Linked DNA regions of Homo sapiens: region 2 is linked to region 1. A link means that fine-mapping ties the variant in region 1 to the expression of a gene that starts in the linked region. Tissue or cell type: monocytes after Pam3CSK4. Region 1 holds a variant in brackets; the other region holds the start of a gene. All regions are shown on one strand. Distances are between the middles of the regions.

Region 1 (8,000 bases):
CTCAGCTCGCTGCAACCTCTGCCTCCCCGGTTCAAGCAATTCGCCTGCCTCACCTTCCCAAGTAGCTGGAACTACAGGTGTGCACCACCACGCCTGGCTATTTTTTTTTTTTTTTTTTTTTGAGACAGAGTCTGGCTCCGTCGCTCAGGCTGGAGTGCAGTGGCATGATCTCGGCTCACTGCAACCTCCATCTCCCGGGTTCAAGCGATTCTCCTGCCTCAGCCTCCCGAGTAGCTGGGATTACAGGCGCCCGCCACCACGCCCGGCTAATTTCTGTATTTTTAATAGAGATGGGGTTTCACCATCTTGGCCAGGCTGGTCTGGAACTGACCTTGTGATTCATTCGCCTCGGCCTCCCAAAGTGCTGGGATTACAGGCATGAGCCACTGCACCTGGCTGTATTTTTGTAGCATTTTAAATAAATTACACCATCAGGTCGGCCCTGACAGTCTCCTGTGCTCTGGCCACTGGGCATCTGTCTCCCAATTGGAGGCTGTTGGAAACAACATCTGCTTATTTATTTCTCTCTTCCTGGAGGGACTGCACCTCTGTCTTCACCACATAATGCGCGATACCAGAACTCGGGACACGCAGCACCGGAGCATGCGCGGGGATCAGCATTGTCCTTCTGGGGCGAGGGCCTGCAGCTGTGCTCACTCCTCGGGGGTCTGTTGCCAGTTTGCCATCCTGTCCAGGAGGGTGGCCTCCCCCACAGATCAGCCCAGGAAGGCGGGCCTGGCTTCCAGTGACCACTGTGACACAGGCCTTGACCCTCAGAGGGACTGGGGTCCTGCAGCGGCCTGAGGGGTGCACAGGTTGCTGCCAGCCATCCCAGGTTTCTCCTAGTGCCCAGGGCATCCTGGGGTCCTGCAGAGTAGCTCAGCTGTCCAGGCAGTAGTCAGGGACATGTTGGAGTCTCATAACATTGAGTTGTCACAAAGGGGAGAAGGAGAAGCTCTGTTTTTTTCCTCAGTGAACTGTGCAGAGCCCAACTGAGGCTGCTCTTTGAGGTGTGTGGCATTCCTGCACCTTGTCAGAGTCTCCCAACCCCTCTCCAGTAAAGGCCCCTGCTTCCTGTGACCAGTGCCCACAGGGCTGGGAGGTCAGTGTGCCACCCGTTTCACAGGTGTCACCTGCCCAGGTGAGAGCCCCAGAGCTCGCCATGGCACCAGCTTGCCTACTTTGCCCTTGCATTGCCCTGGTGAGGTGGACACTGGCTGGGGACAAGACAGCAGTAGACACCCTGAAGCCTGGGCCTGAGCCCAACAAGGACAGCAGCCACCCCTGTTGCACAAAACTGGTTGGGGAAGGCTCTGTAGGTCCCACCCTGAGCCAAGGTGCCCTGCTGCAGGATGGAGAGGCGGGATAGTGTGGGGCAGGAGGACCAACTCCTGGGCCTGGGGTCTGTGGCCAGGCAGGATGTGGTCCAAGGAGGGCCAGAAGGGCAGGGAAGCGGGGCAGGCGTGGCTGTGGGAGTGCTGGGCACCTGCCCTCCTCCTCCTGCAGCTGTCGGAGGATCCACAACGAAGGCTCTGTTTACTGGTGGCCATGGTCCCAGTGGGAGGGTGTGTTACCGCCAGGCAGGGACAGCAGGCAGACAGTATTGGCTGCCTTAAAGGACCAGACGCCCAGCCTTTGTGGGAGGCCTCACCTGCCCTGGAAGGACAGGTGCATGGGGTGCTTCCTCCCTCTCTCCACAAGGGCCTCACTGATCCCCCCCCAAAGGACAGGGGAGCTCCCCGGCCCCTCAGGCTCCCCAGGGAGCTAGCCAGGCTTGTCCCCTACAGGGGTGCCAGACGGTTCTATGAGGCTGATGTCAGGTCCACAGGGGCGTCCTAGAATCACAGGGCTGTGAGAACCAAAGCTCTAGCTGCTGGGGGTCCCATTCTCACTGGAGCCCACCCCTGAGGCACCCCTGGCTCCCAGAGCAGGTGGTCACCTCCCTCGGTAGGTGAAACCAAGGCCCAGGAGGCCTAAGAGTTTGAGGGGTGGCTGGGGCAGAGGACCCAGGGAAGACTGGGGGCCAAGGGCACAGAGGGTCTGGGGGTCATGAGCAGGGGCAAAGGGAAACTGAGGGCAGAAAAGAACAGAGCCACAGAGGAGAAGTGGCCGTGGGGCCCCCTCAGGCCTCATCTTCCTGAGTGGCTGCACCTCTATCCCCTAGTGGGGTCTGACCAGGCAATCCTGGGAGGCTCTGGGAAGAGAGCTGCCCCCCAACAGGGCTGCAGTTCTGGAAGGGAGAACGTGACTGGCCACAGCAGCAGACTCAAATGAGCAAACTAGACCTGTCCCTGATGGGACCGTCCCCTCACCCACCCGTCTCTGTGTGCCTGAATGAATGCTCCAGTTCTGGGGTAACCCAAGGCTTTCTTCCCTTGGCGGGAGTGGGGGTTGGGTTAGGGCTGTGGGCAGCTCTGGGCTAGAGGTGGCAGGAGCCCCCCCTCAACTTCCTAGGTGTCCAGTTACCCATTGGCTGGCAGACAAGCCTTCCTGTGTGGAAACCCGACCACACAGCAGAGGGAGGGCCCCCTGGCCCCCAAGTCCTCCCCATGGGTGCTGTCCGCCCTCCTGGGCCCACCCCACGGACAGGCCTTCCCGGGACAGGGTCTCATTCTCCGTGGCAGTGGGAGGCCTCAGTGTGCCCCAGCCTGGCGGGTGAGACTGGCTTCCTGGTGGGTTCTGGGAGCTGAGCACCTGCCGTGGCCCAGCCCTGCAGAGAAGTGTCCCCGAGGGGCCCAGCCCAGGACCGGCTGAGAGACACAGAGGGCAGACAGACAGGTGGTGCCTCTGGGACCACCTGGCCCTCCAAGCCGTCAGGGTCCCTTCTCACACCCCACGCACCTGATGGGACTCCAGTCCCCACCCCAACCATGACATCCGCCGGGGCAGAGGAGCTCCGGGATCCCCCACACCCTGCACCACCGGCCCTGCTCCCTGCTGGCTGGGCTCTCCCCTGCGCCCCCAGGAGGGGCCCCAGCTCCCACTGTGGGAAGTCCCCGCCCCCCCAGGCCCGCCATTCCTTGGGAGCTTCTGTCCCCAGCGGCTGCCGTGAGAAACACACCTTGGGGTGGGCGGGCTCCTGTGCCTGAGCCCCAGGCCCCGGAGTGTCCACCAGGAGGCAGCATCGGGCTGCTTCCCCCACCTGCGCAGGCGGCCCCTGTCTAGGGGAGTGAGGACCGCCACCCCAGATAACAGCCTGGTTTATTTGCACAGAAGGGGAAGCAGGTGACCGGAGGTCAGCTGCCGCGGGGACCCCCCCTCCAGGGCCCTCCAGAGCCCTCCCAGCCGGGGAGGGTGGGGCGGTCTGCTCAGCAACTGCCCGTCACAACTGCTGGGAGGCCAAGATCTCAGGGTTCTCGTAGCAGTAGGCCTCTTTGGTGGTGGCCTTCGGGGGGCTGCAGACGTTGCAGGGGCAGCAGCGGGTCACCAGGCGGTCCCAGGGCTCCAGAGAATGGAGCCAGACGGGGAGCCAGGCCCAGGAGCGCAGGCGGACAGGCAGCCAGGCCGGCCGGCGCCGCTGCAGGACAGTAACCAGGATGACGAGGAGCACCAGCCCCACCAGGGGACCCCCGACAGCGGCCAGCTCCATGCCCCCTGCCAGGGAGAGCCCGAAGGCCGCCAGGGGCAGCAGCAGGAATCCGAGCAGCAGGTAGACCCCAGCCACCCAGCGGTAACGGGCGGTCACCACCCCGAAGTGCCTGGCCAGCGGGATGGGCAGCCGCAGTGCAGGCACCAGGTACCACAGCAGGATGCCGGCCAGGTTGAAGAAGAAGTGGATGAGGGCGACCTGGGGGCGAGGGGGCTGTCAGGGGCCTGGGCCCAACGAGGTGGGGTCACCAGGGGCCCCGGACCCCTGCCCTCCTCCACCCTACAGAAGGAGCGCCAAGTCTGAAGTTCATCCTGCTTCACGGATGAGATGGCCGTCTGGGAGGCGGGCTGTGGCCAGATGTGGACATGTTCCCCAGCACGCCTCCCGCACGCTCCTGGGAGCTGCAGTCCAGCCCAGCACCCCCGAGCACTGACTGCATCACTGCTGCCCTCAAGGGGGACCTGCGGGGGAAGCACCTTCCGACCTGGCTCTGCCTGTGCCTCCTGCCAAGAGACCCCGTCTCCTCAGTCCCCAGTGTGCTGAGCCTGCACAGTCCAGGCCCTGCGGGGAGGAGGCACAGGGCCACAGGAGGGGAGAACAGTGTCACGGGCCCCTCCAGGGGCTGCCGGACTTGGAGGAGTCCACACACAGGTGCAGTCTGGAGGGCTTCCTGCAGGGGGTGGAGCAGGACCCTGCACTGGGAGGGTCTAAGTGGATAGAGACAGGGCAGAGGCAAGAAGAACGAGCGTGGGTTCCAGGGGGTGCCGCACTTGTCTCTTCCTGT[C/T]AGCGGCGGTGCAGCATGACCCGGAGTTTCGGGAGCTGAACCTGTTGGGCCTCCGGGCAGCAGGCCGCAGACGGGCTGTTTTAGAGGGAGAACCAGCTGGACTAAATGAGACTGGGGTTGGGGCACAGAGCTGGGGGCTCAGACTGGGGGAAGTGTCCTGGAGGCAGAATCACAGCCCTGGCAGCGGCAGGGCAGGGCCCAGCATCGGTGGGACTCGGCCTTTGCAGATGTGGAATGGGGGCTGGGAGGGTCGTCCAGATGGGGACCTGCTGGAGGTGAGTGGCTGCTCCTTGAGGGAGCAGGGGTTGGGGGAAAGCATCTGAGGGTGCTGGAATAGAGGGGCTTAGAGCCCCCTGAGATGCTGGGGGCAGGCCCCCAGGGACACAGCAAAGAGCTGAGAAAATGTGGAAGTGAGGAGGTCTCAAGGGAGGAGACGCAGGGAGGGTGTGAAATGTGTGCAGGACCTGTGGGGTCCAAGGAGGCAGAGCAGCAGGGCTGAGGCTGGCGGCCAGGGAAGGGGTCCAGGAAGGCGGGGGCACAGCCAGCCTAGGGCCCCGGGGCTGGTGACACACTCCTGTCTGTGGGGCTGAGAGGAAGCTGGCCAGTTCTGGCAGCGGGGCAGGGTGGACAGTACCTGCAGGGCGCTGAGCATCCTGTCTGCGGGGCTGGCCAGGGCAGCCAGCAGGGCTGTGGTAGTGGTGCCGATGTTGGAGCCCAGTAAGAGGGGGTACGCCCGGTCCAGACTGATCACCCCGACCCCTGGGGGAACTGGGAGTCACCACAGGACCCCAGCCCGAGCCCCCGTTCCCGAGGCCTCTGTCCTGCCTGCTCACCCATGAGGGGCACGACGGCCGCCGTGAAGACGCTGCTGCTCTGCAGTGCGAAGGTCAGGCCGGCGCCCGCGAGGACGGCCAGGTAGCCGCCGAGCCAGCCCAGCGGGAAGGGGAAGTCTGTGGGGGATGCCGGGTCAGCCCTGGCCAGCGCCCACAAGGAGGGCCAGGTAGCCCCCGAGTCAGCCTGGTGGGAAGGGGAAGTCTATGGGGGATGCTGGGTCAGCCCTGGCCACCGCACCTCCTCCCACGCCCTCACCCGCATTGATGACTGTCCTCACGACCTGGGCCACGCGGCCGCGCAGCACAGAGTTGAGCAGCTTGACTATGAGGACCAGGCAGCCGCAGAGCACCAGCAGGGAGCCGGCCAGCAGGATGCAGCCCACGGCCAGGTCCGTGAGCTCCGTGCCCGCAAACAGGTGGCGGCCTGGGGGCAGGGCAGGGGCAGGTGAGGGGGAGCCTGGGGGGTGGGCCGGGGTGGGCCGGGCCTCACAGGGCAGCCTGTCCGCCGGGGCTGTGCTGTTCCTCTCCATGTAGGGGCCGGTGAGGGGGAGTGTGGGGGGTGTAGGGGGCTTGGGGTGGGCCGGGCCTCACAGGGCAGCCTGTCCGCCGGGGCTGTGCTGTTCTTCTCTGTGCACGGGCCGAAGGCGCCACAGCTGCTGTTCTCCTGGGTCTGGGGAGGGCAGGGAGGACTCAGGACAGGCTCAGTGGGCAGACAGAGGTCAGAGGGCTCGAGGTGAGGGTGGGTGGGGCGGGATGACTCAGCAGGTGGGAGGTTGGGGGTCAGTGAGGGCCTAGGGTTGGGTGCCTCACCGGCTGCCCCGTGGTGCCGCACCAGTGCTTAATGAGACTGCTGTTAGTGGCGTTGCCTGTGGCACTGCTCATGATCATGTCGGAGTCCAACTGGGGGCCAGAGGGGTCGTGACGGTGTGCTGCACCCTCTCTCAGGACTCACCCGGGGCTCTGGCGCCCGCGGGGTCCAGCCCAGCCCTGCCCACTGCTGCCCTCTCCTCCCCTGTCCCAGGACAGGGCCCAGACCCTCCGCTGACCCTCCATCAGGGCAGGGCGGGCCTCCCCTCCTCCCATCCGGCCTGCTCAGGCTCTCTGGGCGGGGGCGGTGGCCGTCCTCACCTGCACGATGAGGTGTGTGAGCGGCTTCGTCAGCACCTTGAGGATGTCGGGCGCCTGCGCCCTGGGTGTCAGGCTGGCGGCACCCAGGGCTAGCTCACTTAGCCTCTCCAGCAGGGCCGTGGCGCTCTCCAGTGGCAGCAGGACCAGCACTGTGAGCCAGTTGAAGATCCCGTGCACCGCCGAGCCGCTGAAAGCCCTGTGGCCGCAGAGAGTGGGCAGGGTCAGGTGGGGGGGCCCGGGCTGGGGCTGCCACTGCAGCCCCAGCCCAGCCCTTCCACCCACAACTCACCTCTGAAATTCATCCCGGTCCCCTGACTGCGCCATTGAGACCAGGGTGCTGGTGATGGATGTGCCTACGTTGACACCCATGATGATGGGCACAGACACCCGGACAGTCAGCACTGCTGGTGGGGGGGCTGAGTCAGCCTGCGGCCCACCCTGCCCCCCCCACCACCCGGGGAGGGAGTGTGCACCCACGCTTAGCAGCCACCATGCTGACCACGATGGAGGAGGACGTGCTGGAACTCTGCACCAGGGCTGTGACCAGCACGCCAATGACCAGTCCAGCCACAGGGTTGGACAGCACCACGTTGTCCTTGAAGATGTCTCCGGCCACTTTGCCTACACCGGCAAGAGAGGTGCGCTGAAGCTGCGGAGGGCTGGTTGCCCGCCCCGCCCTGGGCACCCGTCCCGTCACTCACTGCCCAGCAGCTGGAAGGCGGAGCTGAGGACGTCCAGAGAGCAGATGAAGAAGTACAGGCTGCCGAGGAGCCCGCAGGCCTTGAGGACGCTGCCGGCCACGCGGCGCAGCCTGCCGGCCACGCGGAGCTCTGAGGACACAGGGCAGGCTGTCCCTGGCTGGCCCTCCACCCTGACAGGTCTCCCTCCCAGGCCCCTCATTCTCTGCCCCCTCTCTCCTCTGTCTCCAACAGGGCTGGGTCCCATTTCCTCCTCTTCCGTAACCCCCAGGGCAGGGCCCGGGTTCCTGCCTTTCCAAGCCAGAAGCCCTTGGGACCCTCCCTCGCAGGAGCAGGAGGGGAGGGACGGATGGGCAGAGGTGGCCGGTCTGCCCCAGGACAGCACAGACACCCGGTTGAGGGACACGTGTCTCCCCAGAGGGGGCCTGCATGGCGGAGTTCCCCACACACAGCCTGTTTGGGCAGGCCCCACCCTGCTCTGTCTCCCCAGTCCCGTTGGGGACAGAGGCCTGCCAGCCTGCCACCCCCGGAACCTCCAGACCCACCTTTCCAGGGCTGGCTTGTGTCCTTCAGCTGAGGGAGGGTCCAGGGGTCTGTGTCCCCTTCCTCCAAGACTGGAGCAGAACTGGAGGTCCCTGTGGAGGTAGAATTGAGTACGGCTGTTTCCAGGACCACCTCCCTCCAACTGGGGGCACAAGGGCACAGGCCGGAGGACGGGCTGAGGCGTAAGAGGCCTGGAGTGAGGGACAGAAACGGAACGGGGAAGATGGGGCTCCAGCTGGGCTGGACCTGAGTGGAGGCGTCATGAGCCCTGTGGGTTCCCCGGGAGGCCCGCAGGAAACCTGGCCTGTCTCTGCCCAGTGCCTGGGGGGTGGGTGGTCAGACTGGTGAAGGCCTGGGGCACAGGGGCCACTGGTACCTTCATTCCTCAGAGTCTTTTCCACTAGGTCAACCGCGTCCAGAGTGGG
Region 2 (8,000 bases), 510 kb after region 1:
TGTTCATGCCCAAAACGTCCTGGGGTGCCTGGCTTCACACACTCTGCAGCCCCAGCAGCACTCGCCAGCAGCCCTGCAGGGCTCCACTGGGTACTCTGACTTGTACTTACCCTTCCACCTCTGTCACGTGACCTGGGGCAGGGGCGTGACACCTCCACCTTCCCACTCCCACACCCACCGCCCACTTCACAGCCCTCTGCATTTGGACTTCGTGTAGGGGCCAGGAGCCCCTGCATTTTCTCCAGGAATGTCTTCCAGCCTCAGGGCCAGCTTCGCCCAGGCCTTGACCTGAAGGATGTTCACACGGCTCCTTCAAAGCCCTCCTCATCAGCGCCAATCAACAAAGCAATTCCAGAATGTCCCAACCCTCAGGGGTGTGGCGGGGGGTGGGGGGGAGAGCTTGGGGGGGATGCAAACCCTTGGTAATGACCTTGGTGTGAACCTGTGTCCACAAGGCAGCCAAAGCAGGGAGGGGAAGGCGTCCACGTTTAGTTGATTTGTTGTTTTATCCAGAATGGTGATCCGTGAAGTCTGGAAGAAATTCTGAGTCGTCACAGAGTGTGGGTGTTCTGAGACTGCGGGCTGTCTGTTGCTGTCACTTTTGTTTTGTTTGTTTTGGTTTTTTTTTTTTTTTTTTTTTTGAGAGGGAGTCTCAGTCTGCCGCCCAGGCTGGAGTGCATGCAGTGGCACAATATCTGCTCACTGCAACCTCTGCCTCCCAGGTTCAAGTGATTCTCCTGCCTCAGCCTCCTGAGTAGCTGGGATTATAGGTGCGCACCATCATGCCCAGCTGATTTTTGCATTTTTAGTAGAGATGGGGTTTCCCCATGTTGGCCAGGCTGGTCTCGAACTCCTGACCTCAGGTGATCCACCCGCCTCAGCCTCCCAAAGTACTGGGATTACAGGCGTGAGCCACTGCGCCAGGCCTCTTTGGTTGGGTTTTTAAATTTTTTTAAAATTTTTTTGAGACGGTGTCTCACTCTGTTGCCCAGGCCAGAGTGCAGTGGCACAATCTCAGCTCGCTGCAAACTCCGCCTCCTGGGTTCAAGTGATTCTCCCACCTCAGCCTCCTGTGTAGCTTGGATTATAGGCACCCACTATCATGCCTGGCTAATTTTTGTATTTTTGTAAAGATGGGGTTTCACTACATTGACCAAGCTGGTCTTGAACCCCTGACCTCAGGTGATCCACCCACCTTGGCCTCCCAAAGTTCTGGGGTTACAGGCGTGAGCCACCGCGCCTGGTGGGCTTCTATTTTGTTTTGAATGGTAAGTTCTGTGGTTTGAATGTGTCCTCTCCAAAATTCAGATGTTGCCAGTGTGAACATATCAAGAGGTGGGGCCTTTGAAGAGGCGATTAGGCCATGAGGTCTCCTCCCGTGTGAATGGGATGAAGGCCCTTCTGAAGCAGCATCCTGCTAGGCTGCTCTGCTGCTACGGGACAGAGCAAGAAGGCCCTTACCAGACGCCAGACACTCACCTTGTTCCCAGACCTCCCAGCCTCCAGAACTGTTCTGTTCTTTATAATTTACCCAGTCCCAGGTATTTTGTTATAGCAGCACAAATAAACTAAGGCAGTAAATAAATAATTTCCTTAAATTTTTTATTGCAGTAAAATATACAGAACATAAAATTCACCGTTTTAACCTTTTTTTTTTTTTTAGACAGGTTCTGTCTCTGTTATCCAGGCTGGAGTGCAGTGACACAATCACAGGTCACTGCAGCCCCCAACTCCTGGGCTCAAAGGATCCTCCCACCTCAGCCACCTGAGTAGCTAGGATTACAGACTATGCCTGGCTAATTTTGTCCAGCTAATTTTCACCGTGTTGCCCAGGCTGGTCTGGAACTCCTGGCCTCAAGCAATCTGCCCACCTTGACCTCTCAAAGGACTGGGATTACAGGCGTGAGCCACCACACCCGGCCTGGCCTTAACCTTTTTTTTTTGAGACAAAGTCTCGCTCTGTTCCCCAGGCTGGAGTGCAATGGCTGGATCTCGGCTCACCACAACCTCTGCCTCCCGGGTTCAAGCGATTCTCCTGCCTCAGCTCCCAGGTAGCAGGATTACGGGCATGCACCACCACGCTCGGCGAATTTTGTATTTTTAGTAGAGATGGCGTTTCTCCATGTTGGTCAGGATGGTCTCAAACTCCCGACCTCAGGTGATACGCCCAACTTCGGCCTCCCAAAGTGCTGGGATTACAGACATGAGCCACTGCGCCCGGCCTGCCCTAACCATTTTTAAGTGCACACTCCAGTGGCATTAAGTACATTCACATTGTCGTGCGACCATCACCCCCATCATCTTCTCCAGAATTTTTTTTTTTGTTTTTTTGAGACGCTCTGTCGCCCAGGCTGGAGTGCAAAGGCTCGATCTTGGCTCACTGCAAACTCCGCCTCCCGGGTTCACGCCATTCTCCCACCTCAGCCTCCCAAGTAGCTGGGATTACAGGGTTGCGTCACTATGCCCGGCTAATTTTTGTATTTTTAGTAGAGACAGGGTTTCACCATGTTGGCCAGGATGGTCATGAACTCCTGACCTCAGGTGATCCGCCCGCCTCAGCCTCCCAAAGTGTTGGCCTTACAGGCGTGAGCCACCGCACCTAGCCTGGGCTGACCTGCACAGAAGTGCCATCTACCTACCCTCTGACCTCTGTCATGTGACCTGGGGCAGGGGATGTGACATCTCCACCTTCTAAGTACCCCACTGTCATGGGGTAGCTCCTCTCTCAGGTGCTGGGGCTCAGGTCCTCTCCTGGGTCTCAGCAGGTCATGGTCTGCTCCGGGGCTATGCATACTGGTTTCAGTAAGTGCTTGGTAGATCTACCCCGCAGCATGGAGCAAGTGCTGGGTCGGGTGCAATGGACTCAGTATCTCTGAAGGAGGAGATGTCTCTTGCCCTCTCTCCACAGCTAGAGCTTTCACTAGCTACAGAGCTACAGCCAACTCCTGCACCAGCTCAGAAGGTAGAGCCAGCTCCGGCTACAACTCGGGTGCTAGTTCCAGGATCAGAGCCAGCTCCAGCAACAGCTCCAGCAGCACACCCAGAGACAGGGGCAGCTCTGGTCACTTCTGTGCCGGCTCCACTATAGCTCCAGCATCCGCCCTCTAGCCAGGACCAGTTCCAAAACCATTTGCATGGTTAGGGCCAAATATCAGCATCAGGTTCAGAAAAAGAGCCAGGGCCAGCATCAGCTACAGGCCCAGCTTCAGCACCGCGGCTCACACCAGTGCGGGTTCCTGTACCAGCTCAAGAACTATGGCCACAGCCAGCACAACTCCAGATCTCACTCCAGCTGCCGCACCAGCTCTACCACCTACTCCAGAAACAGAGGCAGCTCTATCACCAAATCTGGTGCCACCTCCGGTGACTGCTCGGGCACCGGCTCCAAAACCACTTCCAGAGTTTCAGCCAGTTCCAGGTGTAGACCTCAAGCCAGTGCCAGGTTCAGAGGAAGGGCCAGCTGCAGCACCACCTCCAGAGCCAGAGCTGGCACCAGATATAAAGCGATGGCTGATTCCACAACCAGAACCAGAATTAGAGGCAGCTCCAGAGCTACAGCCATCTCAGACCTGCACCAGCTTCAGAACGAGAGCCAGAGTTCCTGCCAGCTCTAGAGCGAAATCCAATCAAGAACCAGCTCTAGCACCATATCCAGAGCTAGGACCAGCTCTGACACTTTTCCCAGGGCAAAGACTAGCAACAGCAACACAGCTAGAGGCAGCTCCAGAGCATCGGTCCCCGGGGCAGAGCCAGCTTGTCTCCAACAACCGTGTCAGTGCTAGGACAGAGCCTGCACCATCTCTGGAGGTGGAGCCTGCTGTGGTGCCAGCTCCAGCCCCAACACCAGAGCTAGAACCCAGCCTGCTGGTGGGGCCACACAGGGAGGAGCCTCAGACCGCGCAGTTGCAGCCCAGTTGCAAAGTGTCCTGGGGTCCTGCGCTGGGGCTTTTCTTAGGAGCCCTGGGGTGTTTTCTGGCTTTGCAAAGGCAATGAAAATTTGAGTTGAATTTATCACCAGCTCCTGCTCCCTCTAAGCCAGTACCCGAGCTGGAGCCAGCTCCTATGCCAGCTCCCGCACCCCGGCCTTCCTGGCCTTTGCCTGTGGCTGCAGAGAGCAGGCTGAGCCAGAAGCCTCATCTCCTGGTGTCCCCTCCAGGCCTAAGGCTAGAGCGGTCTGCGCTGTGCAATGCGGAGGCTGCCCAGCCCCAGGACAGCAGCGCGGCCTTCCTCCCGGCCCCTGCGGCTCAGGCCTGTCATCCCCTGCTCTGGAGCTCGCGTCCTGGTCCGAGTCCCGGCGGCTCCACCGTTCGCAGCCCGGCGACCGCGGCGAGTCGCTTGGCCGCGAGGCCTCGGTGTCCCGCCCTGCGCGGTGACCGAGGTCCCAGGACACAGCGCAGACAGGGCGCTAGTCAGGCCTGGCCGCGGTAATCCCGCCTGCCGGGACCCTCGCCCGCCTCAGCACTCATTAGGCGCCTGGTGTGTACCCGCGCCCATGGCCGACACCGGCAGAGCCCCTGGTGGGGAAGGGACGGAGCGCGTCGCGGGAGCCCCATGCTGCCCGGGGTGGGCGCTGCTCGACAGTCACGGGAGCCGCCCCAATGGCTGGGACCACCGGGACCCACGGGCTCGTGGAGCGTCCTCCTGACCCGGCCTGGGAATCCTCCGCGAAAACGGGGAGCCGCGCGTGTCCGTGGCGTGCCCGGCACCCGGCGGGTCGGAAACGGCGCGGCCCTGGCTGCTGGCCCCGTGGGGCGGTCGCGGTGCAGGACACGGGTCACGGCGCTGCCGCTGCTCTGCGTGGCGAACCCACACGCCCGCCCGCCAGCCACTGAGCAGCGCCCACGTGCGGGCGCGGGGAGCTGAACGGCCGGGGACCGCTGGGGGGCGCTGCTTGGGCGGGGCGGATTGACTCTTGCGGGCCGCCGTACGCGCTATAAAAGGCGCGGCGCTTCCCTTCTCGTCCTCTGCGTGCGCCGGAGGCTGCCGTGGCGGGTGGGCCGCCTGACTTCTCCTCCCGGCCAGTTCTCGAGCGCCTCACCGGGCCTCGCCCTGCAGCCTCGCTCTCGCTGGCGCTGCGCGGCCTAGGGGACTGGGCTGCTGGCCTCCGGGTGCGGGGTGGGGGCAGGCTCCGACCTGGGGCGTCCTGGCCGCGCGAGCCGCGGGATGGGGGCCCGGGCCGCGGAGGAGGCGCCGCTGGTGTGTCCCTTGGTGGAGAGGGCGCTGCCGGCCCTGCGCGGTTTCCAGCCAGGAAGCTTCGGGAAGCCTGGTGAGAGCTGAGTGCGCGAATTCGGATCTTAGAGAAAGGCACCCCGTTCACCCACGACCCTTCCGCTCCTGCCGCTGCTTCCCTGAGTCGCTCAGGCTGTGGGAAGATGTTTGTCGGCATCTTTGAAAAATTGATTTCTTATGCTGCGTCAGGTGGTTTCCTTGTCACTGTGGCTGCTCAGCGGGAGGCTGTTCTGGCGGGAGGAGGACTGCTCGGTTGTCTGGTGGGCATTCCGCCTCGTGGTCCTGGTCCCTTGATACCTGCAGGGGATCAGCAGCCCGCGTTTCGTGGCCACTGTGTTGTAACTCCAACTTCCCCTCCCGCAAATTAAGCGTAGAGTAAGGGGAGAGAGTAACATGGGTCGGATTTTTCTAGAACGGCCCTTGTGACAGTGAGCTTTTTGGTGGCAGGGAGCTTCTTTGGTCCGCCTTCCTGGAGACCAGATGCAGCAAAACGCAGTCTTTTTCTTTTCGAGACAGAGTCTCAGTTGCCCAGGCTGGAGTGCAGTGGCGCGATCTCAGCTCACTACCACCTCTGCCTCCTGGGTTCAAGCGACTTTCCTGCTTCAGCCTCCAGAGTAGCTGGGATTACAGGCGCCAGCCACTAGGCCAGCTAACTTTTTTTTTTTTTTTTTTTAGAGAGACGGGTTTCACCGTGTTGGCCAGGCTGGTTTTGAACTCCTGACCTCAAGTGATCTGCCCGCCTCGGCCTCCCAAAAAACGCAGTGTTTATGTGATGCTCCTCTGTGGTGTTTGCAAGATTTATACAAAATTGCGGTTTCTTTTTTTCTCTAGGACGTCTGCTCACTGGAGATGACACGTGCGTGGGGTGTTGGGTAAGTTGGTGCATTGGAGCTGGAACAGGGTCAATCCTCCAATGTAACTAAGCCCTCCTGTGCAACATCTTAAGTGACTGGAGGGACCAGTCGGTCTTGTGTTCACATTGAGGCTAGAAGCTGTCTCCAGGGGAGTAAAAACGGATTATTTAGTCTTCAACAGGACACTGCCCCTAGAGGCGTTGCAGCTGTGGCTGCCGTGTCACATCTGTGTCATTAGGTGGCAGAGATTAGAGAGGCTATGTCTACGCTCAGCGTTCTGCCCCGTGAACGTTTGAATGTTTGATAGTCTCACACTCCTGTTTTGTGGACAGGCATCTGTTTTCCTTCGCTGGTATCTGGGAGAGAGGGTGGGCCCTGTGAGTGGGCTTTCTAACTCTCGCGCTGGGCTAGGCTGGCCTCTAGGGGTCTGAAGGGATAGTGGGAAGGTGGAGGGTGCCTTCACCAGGAGCAGCCTTCATGAGTGAGTTTTAAGAACCTGTGAGGATCGGTCAGGTCAGGTGAGGTACGCGCTGGATCATGCCGTACACCGTGTCAGGATCACGCAGGACAGGACTGGGGAAGGGTTTGCTGGCGTCTCGGTTAATAGCAGTAACGGCAGCCGCTTGTGTTCTTGATTCTTTGCCAAGCATTCTTGTTATTTAACACGGGAAGGAGGTGACTTCGCCTGTGATGGACTTCCAGTGTGAGCACTGGCCAGAGTGACCAGGCTGACCAGCACCAGCCCTGATCCAGGTAAGAGGTGAGGCGGAGGCTTGCCCTCCTTCCCTGCCTGCCGGGTGCGTGTGAGCGGCTGCCCTGCGGATGCTGTCCTGGACCTGTTGGCACCACAGACAGTTGCTCTGCTGTGCCTGTGGCCTCGGGGCAAAGAGAAAGTGGCGATTTCTACACTCAGTGCTCGGGAACCAGTGGGCACTGAGAATGGTTTATGGCCTGACATTACTTGCAACCAAAGCCAGGCAGCATTTGGATTTTCGCTTTTGGAAACCACCTTACCTGGTTTGCTCCATGAGGGAGGGGCAGCAACATCGCTGGGAACCCTGAGGTGTAGATATGTATAAATGAGCTGTGTGTGTATCTGAAGCTCGGGCACTTGTGGGGTTACCAGGAGTGTGCGTCTCACTCCCAGGCCTCGTTCTGGAAACGATTCTGTAGGTCTGTCTGGGAGGCCTTAGGCAAGTTTGATTAAGAACAGTCGAGCTGGATAAACAGGCTGTTCCTTGTCCAGCACTAGTCATCCCAGGGGGGCGGGGGCGGGGCTGCAACTCCTGTGCACAAAGGAAGGGCCCTGGGTAGGGGTCAGGAGCTGCCTTGCCCAGAGATGTGTCTGGGTCACTTTGGAAACAGGAATCCTCTCCCCAAAATGGGTAGCAATGGGGGTACAGAGGCCAAAGACGCAGCTGCATGTCCTGCAGTGCCTGGGACGCCCCGTAGTGAAGAGTGATGTGGCCCAAATGTCAGCAGTGCCAGTGTCAGACTCCTGCTAAGAGACAGTATCAAGAAAGATAACTTCAAAATACACTTTCTGGAGGCCTGGCGCGGTGGCTCAGGCCTGTAATCCCAGCACTCTGGGAGGCCAATGCATGTGGATCACCTGAGGTCAGGAGTTCGAGACCAGCCTGGCCAACTGCCTGAAACCCCATCTCTACTAAAAATACAAAAATTAGCCAGGTGTGGTGGCGCAAGCCTGTAATCCCAGCTATTTGGGAGGCTGAGGCAGGAGAATCGCTTGAACCCGGGAGGCAGAGGTTGCAGTGAGCCGAGATCGCACCACTGCACTCCAGCCTGGACAACAGAGTGGGACTCTGTCTCAAAAAAAAAAAAAAAAAAAAAAGTACAGTTTCGGGATTTCATAAATTGGGTTCCCTGAGGGTCATTTGGTGAATCCGGGTTAAAGAA

Evidence for each region. PIP is the estimated chance that this variant, and not a neighbour inherited with it, causes the effect.
Region 2: SNHG7 starts here. The variant in region 1 is fine-mapped to the expression of SNHG7 in monocytes after Pam3CSK4 (Quach 2016, PIP 0.95).

Annotation. Positions count from the first base shown.
Region 1 is chr9:137,231,739-137,239,738 of GRCh38, reverse strand. It overlaps SLC34A3 (solute carrier family 34 member 3), which reads right to left. Exons shown (of 13, transcript NM_001177316.2): 2 at 7,952-8,000; 3 at 7,578-7,667; 4 at 7,036-7,164; 5 at 6,812-6,955; 6 at 6,624-6,735; 7 at 6,335-6,530; 8 at 6,017-6,106; 9 at 5,798-5,876; 10 at 5,463-5,630; 11 at 5,207-5,323; 12 at 5,008-5,132; 13 at 3,184-3,787. The coding sequence ends at 3,323. Among named protein-coding and RNA genes, the nearest start is that of SLC34A3, 4.8 kb to the right of the region's middle. RefSeq lists silencers at 2,797-3,026, 3,047-3,376. The variant C/T (reference allele first, on the strand shown) is at 4,374.
Region 2 is chr9:136,725,147-136,733,146 of GRCh38, reverse strand. It overlaps SNHG7 (small nucleolar RNA host gene 7), which reads left to right and starts at 4,963. Exons shown (of 5, transcript NR_024543.1): 1 at 4,963-5,266; 2 at 6,061-6,101; 3 at 6,731-6,836. It overlaps LOC124900276 (cuticle collagen 2-like), which reads left to right and starts at 4,963. Exons shown (of 5, transcript XM_047424334.1): 1 at 4,963-5,266; 2 at 6,061-6,101; 3 at 6,731-6,836. It overlaps SNORA17B (small nucleolar RNA, H/ACA box 17B), which reads left to right and starts at 6,910; the gene lies at 6,910-7,043. SNORA17A (small nucleolar RNA, H/ACA box 17A) reads left to right here and starts at 6,268; the gene lies at 6,268-6,400. RefSeq lists enhancers at 1-555, 3,616-3,765 and silencers at 4,213-4,382, 4,536-5,215.